Regions from separate parts of the Homo sapiens genome. Here regions 1 and 3 are each linked to region 2. Evidence: fine-mapped expression QTL. A gene starts in region 2. Each other region holds a variant in brackets. All regions are shown on one strand. Distances are from middle to middle. Region 1 overlaps KPNA7 (karyopherin subunit alpha 7). Region 2 holds the start of TMEM225B (transmembrane protein 225B). Region 3 holds the start of ZNF655 (zinc finger protein 655).

Evidence for each region. PIP is the estimated chance that this variant, and not a neighbour inherited with it, causes the effect.
Region 1: its variant is fine-mapped to the expression of TMEM225B in whole blood (TOPMed, PIP 0.96).
Region 3: its variant is fine-mapped to the expression of TMEM225B in whole blood (TOPMed, PIP above 0.99). The same link has a PIP of 0.9 or more in blood mononuclear cells.

Annotation. Positions count from the first base shown.
Region 1 is chr7:99,169,084-99,177,268 of GRCh38, reverse strand. KPNA7 (karyopherin subunit alpha 7) reads left to right here. Exons shown (of 11, transcript NM_001145715.3): 11 at 3,475-3,697. The coding sequence ends at 3,561. Among named protein-coding and RNA genes, the nearest start is that of SMURF1, 29 kb to the right of the region's middle. The variant T/GTGGT (reference allele first, on the strand shown) is at 3,311.
Region 2 is chr7:99,594,711-99,602,895 of GRCh38, reverse strand. It overlaps TMEM225B (transmembrane protein 225B), which reads right to left and starts at 4,629. Exons shown (of 6, transcript NM_001195541.3): 1 at 4,515-4,629; 2 at 2,611-2,691.
Region 3 is chr7:99,557,955-99,566,139 of GRCh38, reverse strand. It overlaps ZNF655 (zinc finger protein 655), which reads right to left and starts at 7,498. Exons shown (of 3, transcript NM_138494.3): 1 at 7,353-7,498; 2 at 5,445-5,607. The coding sequence starts at 5,580. It also overlaps a transcript of FAM200A not described here. RefSeq lists enhancers at 7,424-7,693, 7,724-7,853. The variant T/A (reference allele first, on the strand shown) is at 3,684.

The DNA of each region.
Region 1 (8,185 bases), 430 kb after region 2:
ACTGAAACTCCCTACCCGTTAACTACAAAGTCCCCAACACACCTTTCCCCTAGCCCTTTTAGTAACCATCATTTTGCTTTCTGTCTCTATGAATTTGACTATTCTAGGGACCTCATGAGTGGAATTGTACAGTATTTGTCCTTTTGTGACTGATATATTTCCTCTTGGCATACCATCTTCAAGATTCATCCGTGTTGTAGCATGTCAGGATTGCTTTCCTTTTTAAGGCTAACACTCCATTGAATGTATATGCTGCATTATATATATTCATTTACCTGTCAATCGACATGTGAGTTTCTTCTACCATTTTGCTATGGTGAATACACTGCTATGAACATGGGTGTGTAAGCCTGTTAGAGTCCCTGCTTCCAATTTTTTTTTGTTTGTAAAGACAGGGTCCTGCTCTGTCACCCAGGCTGGAAGGCAATGGCCGCAATGGTTGCTCACTGTAGCCTTGACTTCCCTGGGCTCAAGCAATCCTCCCACCTCAGGCTCCCAAGTAGCTGGGACTACAGGCATGCACCACCATGCCGGCAGCTAACTTTTGTATTTTTTTTGTAGAGATGGGGTTTCACCATGTTGCCTAGGTTGGTCTAAAACTCCTGAGCTCAAGCAAGCCACCCGTCTCGGCCTCCCAAAGTGCCGGAATTACAGGTCTGTGCCACCGCACCTGGCCCAATTCTTTGGAGTATATACCTAGAGTGGAATTGCTAGATTACGTGGTAATTCCATTTTGAATTTTTGAAGAACTACCACGCTCTTTTCCACAGTAGATATACCATTTCACATCCCTACCAACAATGCATGAGGATTCCAATTTCTCCACACCCTTGCCGACACTTGTTATTTTCTAGGTGTTTTGGTAATAGCTAATCTCATGGGTATAAAGTGGTATCTCATTGTGGTTTGATTTGCACTTATATCAGAAATTTTTCTTTTCTTTCTTTCTTTCTTTCTTTTTTTTTTTTTTTGAGACGTAGTCTCGCTCAGCTGCCCAGGCTGGAGTGCAGTGGCGCGATCTTGGCTCACTGCAACCTCCACCTCCTGGGTTCACGTCATTCTCCTGCCTCAGCCTCCCAAGTAGCTGGGATTACAGGCGCCCACCACCATGTCCGGCTAATTTTTTGTACTTTTAGTAGAGACGGGGTTTCACCGTGTTAGCCAGGATGGTCTTGATCTCCTGACCTCGTGATCCGCCTGCCTCGGGCCTCCCAAAGTGCTGGGATTACAGGCGTGAGCCACCACGCCCAGCAGAAATTTTTCATATGAGGAAGGCAACCTCACATTTATTTCATGACCAGATCAACATGGGGCTAGGAGTTTACAGAGTGACACTTCTCTTAGGTGTCAAAGGTGACTTACCAGCAAAATAAAGGACCATACAATCAATATGACCAGGTGGATGGTGTGGTTAGCTGGGGCAGTTAGTCTTGATTTGGGACCAAGATGATGCTCTCGGCTGGGAGCAGTGGTTCATGTCTGTAATCTCAGCACTTTGGGAGGCTGAGGCAGATGGATCACGAGGTTAGGAGTTCAAGACCAGCCTGGCCAACATGGCGAAACCCTGTCTCTACTAAAAATACAAAATTAGTTGGGTGTGGTGGTTTGTGCCCGTAATCCCAGCTACTCAGGAGGCTGAGGCAGGAGAATAGCTTGAACCCCAGAGCAGAGGTTGCAGTGAGCCAAGATGGTGCCACTGTATTCCAGCCTGGGCAACAGAGCAAAACTCCATCTCCAAAATAAATAATAAATAAATAAATAAATAAATAAATAAATAAATAAAGCTCTCAAGCCAGGTGTGGTAGCTCATGCCTATAATTGCAGCACTTTGGGAAGCTAAGACAGGTGGATTGCTTGAGTCCAGGAGCTCCGAGACCAGCCTGGGCAACACAGTGAGAGCCCATATCTACAAAAAATACAAAAATTAGCCAGGTGTAATGGCATGTGCCTGTAATCCCAGTTACTCGGGAGGCTACAGTGGGAGGATTGCTTGAGTTGTGATTGTGCCACTGCTCTCCAACCTGGGCAATAGCACGAGACTGTCTTAAAATAGAAAAAAAATGCTCTCAAAGGAGACCAGACCTAGAATGGTGATAATGGTGATAAGCATTTTCCAGGTTAATGGTTCCTATGAAAACCTCATAAATAAGAAGCTCAGCTGGGTGCAGTGGCTCACACCTGTAATCCCAGCACTTTGGGGGAGGCCAAGGCGGGTGGATCACCTGAGGTCAGGAGTTCGAGACCAGCCTGGCCAACATGGTGAAACTCCATCTCTACTAAAAATACAAAAATTAGCTGGGTGTGGTGACGGGTGCTCATAATCCCAGCTACTCAGGAGGCTGAGGCAGCAGAATCACTTGAACCCAGAAAGCAGAGGTTGTAGTGAGCTGCAATCATGCCACTGTACTCCAGCCTGGGCGACAGAGTAAGACTCCATCTCAAAAAAAAAAAATAATAAATAAGAGACCTCTTTTAAAGGGGGTTTGATCCCTGGGGCTTGATCCAAGAACTCCAGGGTAAAGATTTCTGGACTAGAAGTAGTAACTATACCTATCATTTGCTTACTCATTGTCAGGACGGTGTTCTATGTCTATCAAAACTGCATTTAAAAACAAGCTACTCACAAAAGGACAAATACAATGCGATTCCACTTAGATTTGGTACCTGCAGTCATCAAATCTGTAGAGACAAAGTAGAATGGTGGTTGCCAGGTGCTGGGTGGAGGAGGGAATGAGGAGTGATTAAATACAGTGATCCCAACGTTTTTGACACTAGGGACCAGTTTTTGTGAAAGACAAATTTTCCACAGGCTGGGGGGTGAGGGGATGGTTTCGGGATGATTCAAGAGCATTACATTTATTGTGCACTTTATATTACTACATGGTAATATATAATGAAATAATTATACAGCTCATCGTAATGCAGAATCAGTGGGAACCCTGAGATCTTTTCCTGCAACTAGACGATCCCATCTGGGGGTGATGGGAGACAGTTGACAGATCATCAGGCACTAGATTCTCATAAGGAGCATGCAGCCTGGTTCCCTGGCATGCGCAGTTCACAATAGGGTTTGTGCTGCTATGAGAATCTAATGCTGCTGCTGGTCTGACAGGGAGGCAGAGCTCAGGTGGGAATGCGAGTGATGGGGAGTGGCTGTAAATACAGATGAAGCTTCGCTTGCTGGCCTGCTGCTCACCTTCTGCTGTGTGGCCCAGTTCCTAATAGGCCACGGATGCGGGGTTGGGGACCCCTGATGCAATAGGTACAAAGCTTCAGTTGTGCAAGATGAAAAAGTTCTAGAGGTGGGTGG[T/GTGGT]GGTGATGGTTGCGCAACAATGCGAATGTACTTAATTGCTACTAAGCTACCTGCTTAAACATGGTTAAGAGGGTCAATTTTGTTACAAGGTGCATCTTGCCAAATGTGCAGTGATAATGTGCTGAGAATCCTGGAGGTATAACAGTGTCTATTCTCTCCTGAAGGAAGAAGATGAGAGCCAAACTTTACTGAGCCAAGTCATAGACCAAGATTATGAATTTATAGATTATGAATGCTTAGCAAAAAAATAGCCAAGCTCCCTACCTCCTAAACCAACAACCCAGTGCTAAAGGATAACTTCTTTAAGAAGCAGCAGTCCTCTATCTTAGTGTAACCCAAATGTGAAGCTTTTAAAACTTGACATTAATAAAATGTTCAACACTTTCACGTTTCTCTATCTGAACTTCAGATAAACGACTTGCATCTTAAAACCATGTGGAATTCATCTCCTAAGAACATTTGTTTAGGCTGGGTGTGGTGGCTCACACCTGTAATCCCAGCACTTTGGGAGGCCAAGGTGGGTGGATCACCTGAGGTCAGGAGTTTGAGACCAGCCTGGCCAACACAGTGAAACTCCGTCTCTATTAAAAATACAAAAAATTAGCCAGGCATGGTGACGCATGCCTGTAATTCCAGCTATTTGGGAGGCTGAGGCAGGAAAATTGCTTGAACCCAGGAGGGCGGAGGTTGCAGTGAACTGAGATGGAGCCATTGTACTCCAGCCTGGGCAACAAGAGTGAAACTCCTTCTCAAAAAAAATAATAAAAAATAAAGAACATTTGTTTAGTAATTGCCTTTTAAAAGGTCTTAAAGCAAAACCTTCAAGACAGAGTAGAATGGTCTTATAGTTATCCGGACAGACTTTTTCTTTTTCTTTTTTTTTTTTTTTTTTTTTTGAGATGGAGTTTCGGTCTTGTCACCCAGGCTGGAGTGCAGTGATGTGATCTAGGCTCACTGCAACCTCCGTCTCCCAGGTTCCAGTGATTTTCCTGCCTCTCCTGCCAAATAGCTGGGACTATAGGTGCCTGCCACCATGCTGGGCTAATTTCTGTATTTTTGGTAGAGACAGGGTTTCACCATGTTGACCAGGCTGGTCTCAAACTCATGACCTCAGGTGATCCACATGTCTCAGCCTCCTAAAGTGCTGGGATTACAGGCGTGAGCCAACATGCCTGGTCTCTACACAGACTTCGACTTGCAGATACAATATCATTGGTTCTTAGTGCTGCAGGGACAGTGTTACTGGCCTTCTTTCCTCTGGCAATTAATATCCTGACACTGACAAGATCTAAGATAATTTTCTCTAGAAACTCAATCTCTCTTATTCTTCCTAGAAAGAAAGAGAGTGCGTGTGTGTTTCTATATTTCAAGGCAGCACCACCACATGCAGCTAACCTTTTAAAGAATTCTGTAGAGATGGGGTCTTACTATGGTCAGGTTAGTCTTGAACTCCTGGCCTCAAATGGTCCTCCCACTTCAGCCTCCCAAAGTGCTGGGATTACAGACATAAGCAACCGCACCTGGCCTACATATTATTTTTGAACCATGACTTTCTTGTATACTTAATTTTTATAACTTAAATGAACTTTGATACAATGTACATATTTTACAGAGCTATAGATATTTAAAGCAAAGGAGGACCCATGCCTCTTCCACCCCATCCCCAGAGGCCAGAACTTTCTACTCTTTGGTCTGTTTATTCTAGTCTATGCTTTTGTAATTCTAAACATTATGCTCATGCTACATCTAAAGACGATGTTCGAATTTACAGAAGAGATAGCCATTTTTTTATACCTCCCTTTCTTCGCATCGTAGATATCTAATTTTTGTTAGCTTGATGTCCAGATTTTATCATAATGATGTAAATTATATTCAGAAGTGTGTTTTCCTTAGTATTAATCCACATCTTCACTCATATGCTTTGTTTTCCTTGGGTTTACCTCATATCAAATTCTTACAGCCTGTGTAAACCTCCTGCTGAATGTAATACGTCAGTAATCTACCAACATGCTTGTCATCCACACCCACTGGAGAGCTCTGTCATGCTCCAGCCTGGAATAGTTGTCCTCATCCTCTGGTACACGTCTATTGTCCTGGGATCGGCTTTTACCATCATTGTGGGGGCTCCACTCACTTTTCCTGGGTCAGTGTCCCTGTTTGCAGGATCTCACACCTGCCTGTGCTTGTTTTCCCCTTTATTTTAGGGACAAGGTCTTACTCTGTCGCCCAGGCTGGAGTGCAGTGGAACCATCACAGCTCAGCTCAGGGCAGCCTTGCTAAAGCAATCCTCCCGCCTCAGCCTCTTGAGTAGCTGGGTCTACAGATGTGTGCCACTATGCCCAGCTAATTGTTTAATTAATTTGGCTTTTAAAATTTTAATTAATTTGGCTTTGGGAAGCCAAGGCGAGAGGATTGCTTGAGCCAGGGAGTTGGAGGCTGCAGTGAGCTATGATGGTGCCACTGCACTCCAGCCTGGGCTATGAAGTGAGACCCCATCTCCAAAACAAACGATCGCATGAGGAGGTAGGCATGGGATCCAGGAAACAGGGAAGCTGACCTTGAATTCCTGGGATCAAGCGATCCTGCTGCCTTGGCTTCTCAAAGTGTTGGGATTACAGGCGTGAGCCACTGAGACCCACTGGCTTTTAATATGTATCTTCTGAGAGAAGGTGCATGGGAGGTTAAATTTCAGACACTGCTCATCCAAAAACATGTACTTTATTTTTTATTTTTATTTTTGAGACAGAGTCTTGCTCTGTTACCCAGACTGGAGTGCAGTGGCACGATCTTGGCTCACTGCAACCTCCACCTCCCGGGTTCAAGCGATTCTCCTGCCTCAGCCTCCCGAGTAGCTGGGATCACGGGCGCCCGCGAACACGCCCAGCTAATTTTTGTATTTTTTTTATTAGTAGAGACGGGGTTTCACCATGTTGAACAGGCTAGTCTTGAACTCCTGACCTCAGTGGGATTGCAGGTGTGAGCCACCGCACCTGGCCTTTGAAAACATGGACTTTGTTTTGACTCCTGGTTGACAATCCAGCTGCAGACAAGTGTTCTAGACTGGAAACTATGACCTTCAGAATGTTGCAAGCATCGATCATTATCTTCTAGTTTTCAGTGTTGGGTTCAAAGTCTTCTACTCTGATTGCCAATTATTTTGTGCATGACTCTCTTCCCCTGTCTCAACTCTACTGACTGAAATTTGTAGGTTGTGTCTCCAGTATTCTTAAATGTGCTGTCCTGAATAGAAACCTATTTTCTGTACATCCAAGTATCAGCCTTGCAGTCTAGAATTGTCCTTTTAATTTTTAAAAAACAGCTTGGAACAGTGGCTCACGCCTATAATTCCAGCACTTTGGGAGGCTGAGGTGGGAGGACCCCTTGAGTCCAGGAGTTTGAGACCAGCCTGGGCAACATAGCAAGACCCCATCTCTAAAAAGAAAAAGAAAAAAATAGAATTATCTCCCCTGCCACCACCATTTTTTTTTCCCACTGAAACGGATCCTCTCATTTTCTTGTCCCATTCTCTATTTTCCATCTTTATTTTTTACTTTCTGGGGTATTCTACTTTATCTCTTCTTCCAGGCTTTTCATTTCTGCAGTCACTTAATTCGAGACACTTTGTTTTCACAGGCTTCCCTTTTCAAGCCTCCTTCTTCATTAGCGCAAGATCCTATCTGTGCTATCGACCTAGCTTTGTTTATGCATTGATTCTTGGGGGGGTGTTTGTTGTTAGTTTGGTGTGCCTATGGCAAAGGCTTCCATCAGATGTCTGATGTCCTTGGATCTCTGCTTGTAATAGAAAGGTCCTCAGGCTGTGAGCGGGGCCTGTCATTGGTGGATATCTGCTGGGTGACCCCACAGAAACCTGGCCATTCCAACAAGTGATCCCAACGATCAGAGCTGCAGATTTTTTTTTGAGACAGTCTTGTTCTGTCACCCAGGCTGGAGTACAGTGGCACAATCTCTGCTCACTGCAACCTCCGCCTCCTGGGTTCAAGTGACTTCTCCTGCCTCAGCCTCCCAAGTAGCTGGGATTACAGGTACAAGCCACCATGCCCGGCTAATTTTTGTATTTTTAGTAGAGACAGGGTTTCACCATGTTGACCAGGATGGTCTTGAATCCCTGACCTGAAGTGATCCGCCCACCTCGGCCTCCCAAAGTGCTGGGATTACAGGCGTGAGCCACTGCGCCTGGCCCAGAGCTGCAGATCTTTTTTCATGGGCTGGTTAGTTTTCCTAAAGAGGAGTCCTTCAACCATTCATTTGTGAGACTTATGCTTCCCTCCTTCCATTCTCTGGGCAGGGCACAGGAACAAGGTCAGGTTATTTATCTATTTTTGAGATGGAATCATGCTCTGTCGCCCAGGCTGGAGTGCAGTGGTGCAATCTCAGCTCACTGCAACCTCCATTCCCAGGTTCAAGCGATTCTCCTGTCGGCCTCCTGAGTGGCTGAGATTACAGGCGTGCCCCACCATGCCTGGCTAATTTTTGTATTTTTAGTACAGATAGGGTTTCACCATGTTGGCCAGGCTGGTCTTGAACTCCTGACCTCAAGTGATCTGCCCACCTCGGCCTCCCAAAGTGTTGGGATTACAGGCGTGAGCCACTGTACCCAGCCAAGGTCAGGTTGTTCAGTAAGCAAAATACTCATTTTTCTCAGTTTTGCTCCCTCAGATGCTGTCCTCCCCAAGTCCAGAGTCCTTACACCTACCTTCTCAGGGACCTGCCAAGCTTTCAGCCTGGGGGCTAAAATTCCAATAAAATTGTTTCAGTTTACATTATTTTAAAAAATTATTTATTTGAGACAGGGAGTCTCTCTGTCGCCAGGCTGGAGTGAAGTGGCGCGATCTCAGCTCACTGCAACCGCCGCCT
Region 2 (8,185 bases):
AATTGTTAAAAATTAGCCAGGCTGGGGGCATGTGCCTGTCTGTAGTTCCCAGCTACTTGGGAGGATGAGGCAGGAGGAACTCTTGAGCCCAGGAGTTAGAGACTGCAGTGAGCTATGATCATGCCGCCGTACTCCAGCCTGGGCAACAAAGCAAGACCTTGTCTCTGAAAGAATAAAAATTTTCAAAAGATGTCATCTTTTGAATGAGTAGTTACACCGTGGTGGGTAAGTGCTGGCTGGTCTTGTCTCAGCTTCATCACTTCCTAGCTGTGTGATCTTGGGGAAGTTGCTCAGAGTCTCAGGACCTTGCTTTCCCCATCTGGAAAAGGAAGGATATAACACCTGCCTAAGGATAAGGAAGGATATATTATAACACCTGCCCAATGATAAGAATACAACACCTGCCACTGAGAGGACCAAATGAAATAACGCATACCAAAGTGTCCAACACAGTGCTGAGCACTCAGGTGCTTGGTTAAAGTTGGGAGGGCAGGGATGGAGGGCAGACTTCTAAAATTCAGATATCCCTGTGGGAGAAGGGGCTGGAGGCCACACCCAACTTCAGGACAAATTGTTTCAACGAATCTGCTTTCCCCTCTGTCTGTGCTGAGCCTGGCAGCTCTGAGGAATGAGAGTTATCCAGCAATGGGAAGGAAGGAAGCAGGGACGGTGATTGGAGCTGCAGGGAGGGTGGGCCTGGCCAGAGGCCTCCAGGTGGCACTGTGATGACCCTCGCTACCTGGCAGTGCAGAAAGGGGGCATCAGGTGAAAGGAAGATGTGACAAGGGAGGTGCACCCCAAGATGACAGTCTTTCTTTCCAAGTCCTACCCAAAGCCAGACCTGGGGACCCTTGCCTGTGCCAGGCTGGGCTTGGCAGCATCACGGTTTTCAAGCTGTGCCTGGGCAGTAGAGAGCACAAGGCCCTCGAAGTGAGCATGCTTTCCTCCCCTGCTCCCACACCCTGTGCAAACCTTGCCCAGTGCAGACACTGGGGCCTCTACCCAATCCCCATGCAGACCCTCACTGCAGCCAGGGAAGGGGGCGTCTTTGCCCATGCAGACACTTGCTGCAGCCAGGGAAGGGGGCGTCTCTGAGAGCTACCAATGGCTATGGCTGAACAAGCCTAATGGCAGAGGGCAGAGGTGTGGCTCCCTTCCTGTACCCCCCACACCCAAGTACCCTGGTTATAAACAGGTAAACACATGTTCATCTTCGATGCTGTCAGAGTGACTTGAAAATGTTTGTACTTTCTCTTCCTTTCTGACATTCTCTAGTTTCTCTTCTTCCCACTTGAAAAATTGAATTATTCCCTTCTTTCCTTATTATATTTTGTTTTTAGATACAGGGTCTCACTCTGTCACCCAGGCTAAACCTCCTGGGCACAAGTGATCCTCCCACCTCAGCCTCCTGAGTAGCTGGGACTACAGGTGCGTGCCACCACGCCCAGCTAATTTTTTAATTTTTTGTAGAGACAGGGGTCTAACTATGTTGCCCAGGGTGTCTTAAACTCCTGAGCTTAAGTGATCTTCCTGCCTTGGCCTCCCAAAGAGTTGGGATTACAGGCTTGAACCACCACACCCAGCCCTTCCCTCTCTTTAAATGTCCCCTTTCCATCTCCCATCCACTCTCCAGGTCATACAAGTCACCCCAACCTCAGGGCTTCCACTTCCTTCTATCTAAAATGATGAAGTCTGTTGGACCAGAGGGCATTGAGGCATCCTTCTAGTATTAGAACTCAATGGGAAGGAGTCATGGCTGCATCTTGATCCTGTCCTCTGTATAGATGGGAGTACACTGGGCATTCTCATTTGATAGGGGGCACCTCTTCCTGTCTACCCCATCTCCACCTGTATGTGACTAGAAGTGATCTCTGTCTCCTTTATTTTCTACCTTTTTTTCTCTCCTTCACCCAAACCCTAGCCTTGAGCTCATGCTGGTTCTTCCCTCTCCCCAACCCCACTTCCATCTCATCAGCCTTCCTCATCTTCTCAGTTTTCCCTTCATAAAGTTCCCCAACCTTCCAACCTTCCTGTCCCCACGCCTGCCACGTCTCCCTCCACACCTGGAACATCACCGTCATCCCCAGGCTCCTCTGGCCTCTGTACCTGGTGATTTGGTTTGGCTGTGTCCCCACCCAAATCTCACCTTGCATTGTAATAATCCCCATGTGTCAAGAGCAGGGCCAGGTGGAGATAATTGAATCACGGGGGCAGTTTCCCCCATACGGTTCTCGTGGTAGTGAATAAGTCTCACAAGATCTGATGGTTTTATAAGTGGAAGTTCCCCTGCTCAAGCTCTCTCCTGCCAGCCACCATGAAAGATGTGACTCTGCTCTTCATTCGCCTTCAGCCATGATTGTGAGGCCTCTGCAGCCATGTGGTGCGAGTCAATTAAACCTATTTCCTTTATAAGTTACCCAGTCTTGGGTATGTCTTTATTAGCAGCATGAGAACAGACTAATACACCTGGGTTCCTTCCTGGGGGCGGGGGTGCCTGTTCTGCTCCCCAGATTTTCCAAACCCCACTCCCCTGAAAAGTGCAGCTTGGTGCTGTCCACTCCACGCAGCCCTCCCAGCCACTCCCTCAGCAAAAATTCACTGTGCACTTACAGGTCGCCCCACTCCCAATGTAGGCCAATGGTGGGGATTCAGAGATGAAAAAAGGCAGGAACTCAGAGGCTCTTGGAACTGCTAGGGAGAGAGACACAGAAACACATCATGTGATGCAGTGCTTTTGTCTTCACAGCCCGGGGTTACTTTGGGGCCAGGTATACCCCAGGGCACTACCCCTTATCTGTCCCATTCCCACTGCCCCCTCCACTCTCCAGTGATGAGGACCTTGTCCTCCTTTCCCTGGGCACCAGTCCAGGTCCCTCCCTGAAGCAGCCCTTAGTGCCAGCACTGGACAAGGTTACATCTTCGGATACACAACTTCAGATCCGCACGGATATAGGCCAGACTGAAAGGTCATAGATATTTGAATATAAGAGGGGATTGGTAGATCCTTTTGTACAGAAGCAGAGATGGAGAGCTGGAGAGAGGGAATGACTGGTGGAGGATTCCACAGCCCATCAGTGCTGGCACAGGGACCAGAATACTGCATCACTGCCAGGACAGTCTCACCAGCCACCAATGGCCGGCAGTTCAATTCAGTGATTCCCAAATCTGGAATTCTGTGGATCCAGAGAATGCTTTCTTATAGGCATGTGCATGTGTGAGAAAGAGAGAGAGAATGGGGGAATATACGACTGCCAACTTTTTATTTTGCCAAGAGCATTAAAAACAAAGCAACTTATCTACTGTCACTGGTTTGGTTTTTATTCAAATTTTTGTTGTTGTTCTTTTTTGAGACAGGGTCTTGTGTCACCCAGGCTGGAGTGCAGTGGTGCATTCATGCCTCCTGGGCACAAGCGATCCTCCTGCCTCAGCCTCCCGAGTAGCTGGGACTACAGGTGTATGCCATTACACCTGGCTAATTTTTTTTTTGAGATGGGGTCTTGCTATGTTGCCCAGGCAACCCCTGGGCTCAAGTGATCCTCCCACCTTTACCTCCCAAAGTGCTGAAATTACAGGCATGAGGCCCCACGTCTGGCCAAATTATTATTTTTTAAAGGACCCATGGGCCGGGTGCGGTGGCTCACGCCTGTAATCCCAGCACTTTGGGAGGCCGAGGCAGGTGGATCACGAGATCAGGAGATCGAGACCATCCTAGCTAACACGGTGAAACCCCGTCTCTACTAAAAATACAAAAAAAAAAAAAAAAAAAAAAATTAGCCAGGCGTGGTGGGGGCGCCTGTAGTCCCAGCTACTCAGGAGGCTGAGGCAGGAGAATGGCGTGAACCCGGGAGGCGGAGCTTGCAGTGAGGCGAGATCGTGCCACTGCACTCCAGCCTGGGCGACACAGCCACAGCGAGACTCCGTCTCAAAAAACAGAAAGGACCCATAACACCAGGAGGTAAGAAAAGCTGTGTACCCCGTGGTGGTGCCTGGACCAGCGTCTGAGGACCACTGGCTTGGCAGGAGGTTCCTGGACCCTAGGCCCCCTTCAGCGCCTGAGCTGCAGCCCCGCACCTCCCAGGCCCTGGCACTTAACAGGAAAGTCGGCAGCTGCTCTGGGGATGAAGGAAGTGGGCGACCTGAAGGGCATCCTGGTTTGGAATGGGAAAGAGACCTTCCCTTCCCACTGTTTCCTCCGGTCATTTGTGGCAACTTGGACTGCACATTGACCCAGGGTAGGGTCAGAGGTTCCTTCCCGTTGACAACCGTCCTCGGCCCTTTCCCCTGAATGCCAGGACTCCGCCCTTCTGTGGCCCCAAAGCCATAGGGATATTTTCAAGACCCCAAGCTGGGCCCTAACCAGGCCATCCGCCCCCAGCCCCTGCCCCGGGCGTCCCACAGCCAGTTAGGCGATGTTCGGCCTTGGGTGGGTAGGGGGACTTCCCCACATCCTCTCCCAACCTGTGGGGCCACCTTGCTCTCCCCCATACTGGTCTCCCCTCTACCCTTCCCTCCACCTGCGGCACCGTCGTAGGCGGTTTCGCGTCCCAGAGCTGGGCTGCCCTCCAGGCGGGTCACGGTGGGACCCTCGCCCTCCACTCCAGGCTCCACCGCGCTCCTGGAGCTTCCGTTGGCCCCAGAGGCCCCGGCGGGGGGTTGCCCCGACCCGGGGGAGGAGCCCACTGAGCCTGGGCCTCTGAGCGGAGCTCCAGCTCCAGCTCTGCGGAGGAGACGCGGGCTCACCTCCCTACCTGCCGCCCCGGCCACCGCAAACCTGGCGGGTGGAGGGTGGGGAAACCAGGCCCTGGCGTCTGCCCACAGTACCGGCTTCGCTCACGGGTGTGTGGGGGCGGAGGAACAGAGAGCGGGAGGGATCTGAATTCAAATCCTAGCTCTGCCATTACCAGCGTGGGGACTTTGAATAAATTTCCTGTGTCTCCTTCCTGGGTCCTGGGCTTCTAATCTGTAAAATGGGAATAATAATAGTATTAATAATATGGTGTTAATAGTATTAACACTATTATATTAATGATATACTATTAACACTATTATATTAGTAATATAGTGTTGAGTGTTAACACTTATATTAATAATATAGCGTTAATAGCATTAACACTATTGTATTAATAATATAGGGTTACTATTAACACTGCTATATTAATAATACATGATTAACACTATTAATCATATAATAGTGTTAACACTATAATATTAACAATATAATATAGTGTTAACACTATTATAGTGTTAACACATATTATATTAATAACACTATTATATTAATAATAATTGTTAATAATATAGTGTTAACAGTATTATAATTATATTAATAATTAATAACACTCGTATATTAATATTATAATTAATAATAATAAAGTGTTAATAGTATTAACACTATTATATTAATGATAATAGTGTTAACACTATTAATAATGTAATAGTATCTACACTATAATAATAATATAGTGTTTCATAATATAGTGTTAGGCCGGGCGCGGTGGCTCACGCCTGTAATCCCAGTCCTTTGGGAGGCCAAGGCAGGCGGATCACGAGGTCAGAAGATCGAGACCATCCTGTCTAACACGGTGAAACCCCGTCTCTACTAAAAAATACAAAAAATTAGCCGGGCGTGGTGGGGGCGCCTGTAGTCCCAGTTACTCGGGAGACTGAGGCAGGAGAATGGTGTGAACCTGGGAGGCGGAGCTTGCAGTGAGCAGAGATGGCACCACTGCACTCCAGCCTGGGCGACAGAGCAAGACTCTGTCTCAAATAATAATAATAATATAGTGTTAACACTATTATATTAATAATATAGTGCTAACACCATTATATTAATAATATAGTGTTAATAGTATTAACATTATTATATTAATAATATAGTGTTAACACATATTAGTAATGTAGTGTTAACACTATCATATTAAAAATATAGTGTTAGTAGTATTAACTCTCATATTAATAACAGTGTTAACACTATTATATTACTAATATAGTGTCAATAGTATTAACATTATTATATTAATAGTAGCACACTGTGATATTACTAATATCTGTAATGTTAATGATATTCAGTGTTAGCACACTGTGGTATTACTAACATCTATGATATTCATAGTATTCAGTGTTAGCACACTGTGATATTACTAATATTTGTGACATTAATAATATCCAGCGTTAGCACACTGTTAACACACTGTGATATTACTAATATCTATATTATCTATCATATTAGTGATATCCAGTGTTAGCACACTGTATTAACACACTGTGATATTACTAATATCTGTGATATTAATAATATCCAGTGTTAGCACACTGTGCTATTACCAATATTTGTGACATTAATAATTTCCAATGTTGGCACACTGCAATGTTAATAATATCTATGATACTAAAAATATCCAGTGTTAGCACCCTGTGTTGTGTTAATAATGTCTATGATATTAATAATATCAAGTGTTAGCACCCTGTGATGTGTTAATAATAATATGATATTAATAAAATCTAGTATTAGCACCCTGTGACTTGCTAATAATAATATCCAGTGTTTGCACCCTGTGTTGTGTTAATATCAATGATATTAATAATATCCAGTGTTAGCACACCGTGATAATAATATCCAGTGTTAACACAGTGTTAGCACATTGTGATATTAATAATTTATATGATATTCATAATATCCAGTGTTAGCACACTGTGTTAGCAAAATGTGATATTAATATCTATGATCTTCATAGTGTCCAGTGTTAGCACACTGTGATATTAATATTATCTATGATATTCATAATATCCAGTGTTTGTTAGCACACTGTGTTATCATACCATATTATTCATAATATCCATGATATTAATGCTGATATCCAGTGTTAACACACTATGTTAACACACTGTGATACTATTCATAGTATCTGTGATATTATTACTAACACACATTAGATATTAATACTAATATCCAGTGTTAACACACTGTTATATTACTCAGAATATTCATGATATTACTACTAATGTCCAGTGTTAACACACTGTGATATTTTTCATGATATCACTAATATCCAGTGTTGACACACTGTGTTAACACACTGTGATATTATTCCTAATATCCACAATATTACTACTGATATCCACTGTTGTTAACACACGGTGATATTATTCATAATATCCAGTGTATTACTATTGATATCCAGGGTGTTAATACAATTAATATCCATGATATTATGAATAATATCACCCTGTGATATCCAGGATGATATCCTGATACTGATCCACTACTGATACCCAAGATGTTAACACATTGTGTTAACACCCTGTGATATTATTCATAATGTCTATGATGTTACTACTGATATCCAGGGTGTGAACACACTGTGTTAGCACCCTGTGATATTATTCATAATATCCATGATATTACTACTGACATCCAGGGTGATAATGCAGTGTTAACACACTGTGTTATGTTTGTAACATCATCGATATCACTACTGACATCCAGTGTTTCACACTGTGATATTAATGAAATATCGCTGTTACATTTATAATATACAGTGTTTCCACACTGTGCTATGTATGAAATATAGTATCCAGTGTTTCCACACTGTGCTATGAATGAAATATTATACTATCCAGTGTTTTCATACCGTGCTATGAATGAAATATTATAATATCCGGTGTTTCCAAACTGTGCAATGAATGAAATATTATACTATGCAGTGTTTCCAAACTGTGCTATGAATGAAATAATATTCAGTGTTTCCACACTGTGCTATGAATCAAATATTATAATATCCAGTGTTTCCACACTATGCTACGAATGAAGTATTATAATATTCAGTGTTTCCACACAGGGATATGAATGAAATATTATATTACGCAGTGTTTCCGCACTGTGCTATGAATGAAATATTAAAATATCCAGTGTTTCCAAACAGGGATATGAATGAAGTATTAAAATATCCAGTGTTTCCACATAGGGATATGAATGAAATACTAAAATATCCAGTGTTTCCACAAAGGGATATAAATGAAATATCGCTGTGATATTTATAATATCCACTGTTCCCACACAGGAATAAAGTTGAAATCCTGCTGTGATATTTATAATATCCAGCGTTTCCACACAGAGATATAAATGAGATATAGCTGTGATATATATAATATCCAGTGTTTCCACATAGGGCTATAAATGAAATAT
Region 3 (8,185 bases), 37 kb after region 2:
GTTTCCTCAGATATAAAATAGGAGCAGTGTCATCTGCTCACAGGGTTATGGTAAGGATTAAATGAGATATATACACATATCCTTTATATATATATATACACACACACACACACACACATATAAATGTCCTATGTCTGTGTGTGTGTATATACATATGTGTGTGTGTGTGTATACATACATATATATAGTACCCAATAACATATTGGCTGCTCAATAAATACTAAATAGCTGTGACAATGGAAAACATTCTGTGCAAAATAACTGTAGTCCTTCATGACATCAAGTTAAAAAAGCAGAGAGTATGTGCCAAACATTCCCAATCTACTGACCCAGTTAATATCAATTAGAATTTTAACAAGCATGCTTCTGAGGCCATCATCTAATAGGGCACCTGCCACACTTACCCATGTGAAAAGCAACTCGGTCCCCTTTATGGGTCTTAATCTACCACACTAAGTAACAGGTAACTTCCCTATGGATAGTGACCCAGAGGCAAATTGTTCATTCATCATCAATGGAGTATGTTCTTTTTTCAATTATGTGGTAACGAAAATTACTTATTACCGACTTCTTTACTCAGCTATTTGTACTCTGTATATTTACTGCTGCATAGTGGAAGCACTTAAGCAAAGGACCAACGTTCTAATGTCTGTGACAAATACAATCTGGAGGCCAGGCGCAGTGGCTCACAACCTGTAATCCCAGCACTTTGGGAGGCCGAGACAGGCGGATCACGAGGTCAGGAGATCGAGACCATCCTGGCTAAGATGGCAAAACCCCATCTCTACTAAAAATACGAAAAGATTAGCCAGGCATGGTGGCGAGCATCTGTAGTCCCAGCTACTTGGGAGGCTGAGGCAGGAGAATGGCATGAAGCCGGGAGGTGGAGCTTGCGGTGAGCAGAGATGGTGCCACTGCACTCCAGCCTGGGCAACAGAGCAAGACTCCGTCTCAAAAAAAAAAAAAGTCTTACAACCCTAAAAAGTTAAATTAATAAATGTATAAACTTAACCCAGTTATGCTGGAGGTTGCAATTTTTGTTAAAAATCAGACCTTGGCGATGACCTTGAGCAGCGGGACATAAATAATTCCCGCAAGCTTAGTGTTCCAATAATGGAACACTAGGCATAAATGGGTTAATTTTCAGATGAAGTCTGCTGAACCCAAAAATATGAAAATGATTTCCCAAGGATTGTAAAAATAACTGCTAAGGAGATGCTGCTAACTTGATCACAAAAGCAAGATGAGTAGAAGGCTTTCTTGCACTGTGCGTGTCTCTTGTATGTGTAAAAGTGTGTATGCATGTCGACTGCATGTCGAGTGTGCAGTGCAGAGATAAGAGAGGAAATGGGATAAAGTTCAGTCTATAGCATACTATGCTATTAGACTGCATTAAACTGCTACAAAGTTTCTTTACTCCAAAAAGTAGACAGGTTAACTGTTGGAAACTCTGTAATTATTAGATAAAATTAACAGTACTTTACAATTATATGTATGTCACTTTACAGTTTACAAAGTTATTAAGTAGATATTCAATTTGATGCCCTGAAATAAATTTAACTTCTTTGCCCTCCCTTCTCCCCTCCATCAAGGACAGAGTAAGGAACACTTAATCAGGAAAGGCAATATAATTGCATCAATCTGTACAGAACCACAAAGAATAAAGGGTAGGAAGGTAGGACCTTGAAGAGGGCCACAGGGACTTCAAGGAAGGAGGAAACCAGAATGTTAAACATGAGGGAAGCCCAGGGTTCACAGGAGAGTTAGGCACCATACGGGGCAGGTTGTGTTCGCCACATAAAAGGAGGGGCACACAGCATAAGTTTCACATTCTAAAATAATATGAAAAGACCATAACTGAAGAGCTGAATTTGGAATTTCTGGTTTTTCACAATACAAGTAGATGATGACCACCAACCATGGTTTCTGAATGAACTGGGTTCAAAACATATCTGGTTGCAACAGAGGGCTTCCTTGGACCCTAACATTTGAAATTAAACAGAGGTAATTTGAGGAGCTGCGATTTTACACAGTGGTGGCATCCTGGGGAGCTTCTATTCCATCAGTCAATTTTAATATCTCACAATCGTGGAAAAGGAGTTTCCGAGCAGGGACGAGCAATATCGATGGGAAGCCGATACTTGGGCCATCTCTTGGAGATTCCTGCTGTAAGGACGGCAAGTGTTTCTCCAGAGAAAGCACTTGCCTGGGTATGACTCAGGGCCGGGCAGGAATTCACACTATGAATCCGGGTGGTGGGAAGGCGGAGAAGTATGCCTACAAAGATTAAAGAGCCAGGAATGGAAAACACACTAAAAACCGTCCCAGTGGGCAGCCTGCCTCCCCACAAATAAGAAGACCTTGAATCCTGAGCATAATCAGGGAGACAAAGCAATGCCCTGGATGCCACCAGCATAGACAAAGCCAACGGAAAAAAAAAAAAGAAAAGAAAATGCATGATTCAGTATTTACACACACAAAAAGAAGAGTGCAGAAGCAAGCAAGAAACTAAAGAAAAAGGAGGCTGGGTGCGGTGGCTCATGCCTGTAATTCCAGCACTTTGGGAGGCCAAGGAAGGTGGATCACTTGAGGTCAAGAGTTCGAGATCAGCCTGACCAGCATGGTGAAACCCCGTCTCTACTAAAAATACAAAATTAGGCGGGCGTGGTGGCCCATGCCTGTAATCCCAGCTACTTGGGAGGCTGAGGCAGGAGAATCGCTTGAACCTGGAAGGCAGAGGTTGTAGTGAGTTGAGATTGCACCACTGCACTCCAGCCTGGGCAACAAGAGTGAAACTCCATCTAAAAATAAAATAAAATAAAAAATATAATATAATATAAAAAATAAACTAAAGAAAAAGGAACAATGCTCACACCAAGGGAGCTGCCGACAAACCCCACTGATGCTTCCCAGCAGCACTACAGCTTGGCTAATCCCAGCTTCCCACTGTACCTTTCAAAATGACAAGGGAGAGACATGAGTTAAGCATTGACCCCACCTCAGCATGGGGTAAACATCTGAGATTTCTGCTGCCCTGGGTGTGGTTACGTGGGATTACCATTCTGGGTGACTCACTGAAATGTACTCACAGTGAGTCATGCCTTCAAATGACATCTCAAGTTCTGCCTGCTTGGAGATACATCTGGGGATCTTAAGGGGTGAGGGACTACTCAACAAGAAGGAATTTAGCCTGTCTTTTTAAATAAACGGCATTTCTTTTTCCTAGAAAAATGGGAAATTCTTCAATTCTCTAATACAGGGACACTGAGATAACAAAGAGGAAAGTGTCTGGTTGGAGGTTGGGAGGCCACCCTGGGGTCTCTCCTACAAAAATGGAAAAGAAAAGAACGGTGAGAAATCAAGCAAAGCACAAGAAAGTTTCCCTTTGCTAAAAGGGAAAAGATGCCCCACAATGGCCATAAACATGAACTGGGGATAAGGAGGAGAATGTCTCTTCTTGGCACCCCCAAACAAACGTTAATTACCCCTCCCGGAGAAGACGATGTGAAAGATAAGGATTCAGAGGTTCTAAGTCCTGGAATCTAAGCCACACTCTACAGACCTTCTCAGAGACCTTATACTTAGGAAGAAACAAGAAAGTAAAGAAATTCAAATAGATAAACCGAATAATAAGGAAGTCCTTACCCAGTGAGACCACGTTCCCATAATTCTCTAACATCACT[T/A]CTCTGTAGAGGTCCCTCTGAACAGGGTCCAGGTATCCCCATTCCTCTCGAGTAAGGTGCACAGCCACATCCTCGAATGTCACAAACTCCTGAAATAACACATCCTGGCTGCTCTGAGGAATGAGAACACTGTAGCACCATGGCCAGAGAATGAAGATCATAGAGAGGGTATCCACTGTGTACTTACGTTGAGGAGGAGGGAGAACAGATTAGAACCTACGGAATAAAGCCCATAACCCTTAAACATCTAATAAGCACCCATCACACAACCATGGACAAAGAGAAAACAGAGTTTGCTCATGGCACTGGGGAGATGGGAAGTTGGTTTATGTGAAGTCCAGGTCTCCGAAGAGGATCAATTCCCAAACTGGAGTCTGCTATTGAAAAAAATTCCAGGCAAGGTCTACAGATGGGATGAGAGAGAGGCCACACTCCATCAGTAGCAATAGTCCCTGAGGAAAAGCAGAGGGTTCCTCAGCTCACCTGGTACCTGGCTGTCAAGAGCGCAGCTGCCTGGTCTCCTGGGCTTCCCTCACGGGGAAGAGCAGGCACCTGAGGAACAGGTGGAGCTGAGGGAGGAGAAAGGAGTGAAGAGTGAGAGCAGCCCTTTCCCAGGGCTCCCTTTCAGAGGAGGCCTCTCCAGCCCAAGGGGTGTCAGCAGGACCCTCCTCAATACTCTAGTAAAACCAATGAACATTTTTCAGGTATTGGGTGTGTCTACTCTGCTTCGTCTCAGTACTTGCATGCCTTATGCGTGTTTTGACCTGTGATACAGGATTTTCTTAGGAAAGCTTGTATTTCACTTTATCTTCATCACATGACAGTCCTCTTACAGAAGAGTAAGACTATACCTGTTTTGCAGATGGGCAAAGCAAAGCATAAAGACTTGTGGGGACTTGTCCTGGGCTAGGGTTATTTAGCAGACTTCTGACCCTTTCCAGGCACTGTTCTAGACACTTGATCAGCGTTTCTCTTGTGAATGGGTGCTGTCTCAACCAGTGTGTAAGGCCCCCAAGAACAAGAAAGGGTCATCTGTTTCCTCGAAATCTTTTCCACAGTCCCACAATCCCCCACAGCACTCTACACATTGTGGCACTTGATCTGTGTGGGTGACACACAAGTTATTTCAGGCACTAGAGTTAACCACAGGCAATCTAAGACACAGCTCTTATAAAACAAAGGAAGAAAAAGACCAACCTACCTATACGATACAGCAAAGTGTGACTGCGTAGTCAAAATACAGTATATATACATTCATACAGGCATTGTGTTCAACCAAGGAATTAAATGGTTGCTTCCTTGACCAAATTTAGTCTAGTCACAAAACACTGCAGTTACAACAGAATGGATGGCAGGTGACAAAGCAAAGAAAAACTAAGTGAAGGGAACAGGGGAAAGAAAGGTCCTGAACCTAAGAGGAAGTGAGAGCCAGGAAAGGACTGTGAGATGTGGCAAAAGCAGCATATCTTAGAAATTATTCTGGATGTGAGAACTGGGATGAAGTGAAGGTTGCCTGAAGGAAAAACCACCACAGCGAGTAAGCAGCCATCACTCTGCTTATTTGAGAAAGATGAGCTATCCTTAATAAAGGGGCTCAGACTAGGACTGAACTGAGTCACATCTGCCCCCTCTTTCATTCCTCCCTCTAGGGACCATGTTCTTATTCCAGTTCTTGGCCTCTCTCAAACCAGGCCCAGGAGCCCCCTCGGGAGCCCCTCCGCACTCCCACTCTCCCAGACGGAAGTGCTTTCTCTGCCTTACCCCCAGTGAGTCCCTGTTCCATGTCGGTGTCCTGCACAAACTGAGGCTCTGGGGACAGACACTCAGACTGGGTCTCCAAAGACTGAAACTGGACCCTTGGTGACCCTGCTGCTTCCTGGGCTGGTATTTCCTCCATCACTGCTCTGGAGGACAATGACCATCACTGCAAGGTAAGATTAAGAGAAATTACTGTAATAAGTTAAAGCATTTCATCATTTTATATCGTCAGGACTTTGCAAAGGATCTTACACACTATGGATATTCAATAAAAATTAGTTGATAATGATTAACCACCCTAAATAAGTAACAGAAAAATGGGGCCAGGCGCAGTGGCCTGTAATCCCAGCACTTTGGGAGGCTGAGGCGGGAAGATCACTTGAGGTCAGGAGTTCAAGACCAGCCTGATCAACATGGTGCAACTTCTTCTCTACTAAAAATACAAAAATTAGCCAGCGTGGTGGTGCGGGTCTGTAATCCCAGCTATTCGGGAGGCTGAGGCAGGAGAATTGCTTGAATACAGAAGGCATACGTGGCAGTGAGCCAAGATTGCACCACTGCACTCCAACCTGGGCAACACAGTGAGACTCCGTCCCAAAAAAAAAAAAAAGAAAAAAAAGAAAAAGAAATATGGATATGCTTCAGCTTTAAATACTTAAGAACCAAATCATAGAAGAGTCTCTAATTTGGAATTTGTGGCATTAAAAAAATTAACACGGTACAATTTAATAGTGTAAAGCTTTCTGTGGAAACTTTAAAATATTTAAAATTGGCCACGTGCGGTGGCTCAAGCCTGTAATCCCAACAGTTTGGGAGGCACAGACGGGTGGATCCCTTAAGCTCAGGAGTTCCAGACCGTCCTGGACAACATGGTGAAACCCCGTCCCTACAAAAAAAAAAAAAAAAAAAAAAATTAGGTGGCCCAGGCCTGTAGTTCCAGCTACTCCAAAGGCCAAGGCAGGAGAATCGCTTGAGCTTGGGAGGTAGAGGCTGCAGTGAGCTATGACTGCGCCACTGCATTCCAGCCTGTATGACAGCGTGACAGCCCACCTCAAATAAACAAAACAAAATATTTAAAATTTACAATCGTCTTTGGAGGCTCAAGTTGGTGCCCAGAGAAAAATGCTAGTTATGATTGCTCATTTTATTTTAATTTTGTTTTAGCAGAGATGGGAGTCTCGCTATGTTGCCCAGGCTGGACTCGAACGCCTGGCCTCAAGCGATCCTCCCACTTCGGCCTCCCAAAGTGCGGGGATTACGGCGTGAACCACCGTGACAGGCCCGCGTTTACGTAAATAAACTCATTTAAATAAATAAAACAGCAGGCCCCCTAGGAAATGTCTTGGTAACACCGTCAGCCCACTCCGATTTACTACACGGGCTTGGCGAATAAAACTCCACTTTTGGGGTCAGGCCCTTCGCTAACTCAGACCAGCTAGACCGGCCTTTTCCCGGAATCCTGAGAGCAACGCAGGTAAGAGCTGCGGTTCGAACAGGTTTGAGCGGCGTCCTTCAGGCCCAAGGACGCATGAGGGTGCCGTCCCCCTCCCACCACCCTCGCCCTGGGCCCCTGCCCGGCTCCCAGCTCGGTCCTCAGAAGGCCTTGCCCGGCGCTGCCCTCCTCCCACTTCCCTTTTAGGCCAAGGCAAAGTCCCAAAAGGACCAGTGAGGACATACAGACCAGCTCGCACCAGGGCACGGTCGCCGGCTCCTGACGGCGGGGCCCTCGGTCCGCGAGGTGAATGAACCAGGGCTGAAGAGAAACAGGCCCTCCTCGCACCCGGGCCTCCGCGCACTCTCGGGGAAGCGAACTACCGTCGGCCGCGGCCGGACGCCGCCTCCTTCTACTCCCGTGAAGGCAAAACAAGCTGCCACCCCGCTGCGACCCCAAAACGGCTTCCGGGTACTCACCGAGGGGAGGGGCGGGCCTGGCCGCTGTCCTGTCACCTACACACTCGCGCTCGGGGCCACCACAGCCTCTCCCGGGCCGCTGTAGACAGCCCCGAGGCCGGCGCTTCTCGGTGGCACTTCCGGCGACGGAGTGCAGGGTCCCGAATGAGGGCCCCCCCTCCTCCGCCCAGGCATGAGGGTCCCGGATGTGGGTGAGAGCCCCGGATGAGGGTCCCGGATGTGAGTGAGGGCCCCGGATGTGAGTGACGGCCCCGGATGAGGAACTCGGAGGAGGAGCTGGGCCCGCGCGTCCATGATTCGAAGGCTCGTTTTCGCAGCTTTTCCACGTCTTTTTCCGGTCCCACTGCCCTCCATGCTAACTCACTGGGCGTCTCTAGCCGTTATACCAACAATGACTGCGACCAGTGTTGGGAAAGCGCCCCCTGGGCCCCTCCCTGACGCCAGCCCATCCTTGAGACTCCCTGCAAGGAGGCGGCCCGACCCAGTGGGTGCGTGTCGTGGGGTGAGGAGGAATGGCCGACCTAATGGTCCCGCTTCCGTGAGTAGCACAGGGGTGCCTGCTCAGAGTGTAGTACAACGCTGACAAGTAGAAGGCGAGGATTGCGGGGCCTGGGTGAGATGGGACCCACTAAGTTGTGGGATCGAAATCTCAGTAGGTCCTTGGGGAAAGCGGGGACGGGAGGGGAGATGAGCAGATTGGAATAGAACCGAGAGAGACGGAGGAAACTGACAGTTGCGTCCCTGGTGGGAAGACTAAAATCTATGCAGAAACAGGGATAGGCAAAAGCATTGTGCACAAGCGGGACAGGCAGAGCGCCGGGACAGAAACCCTT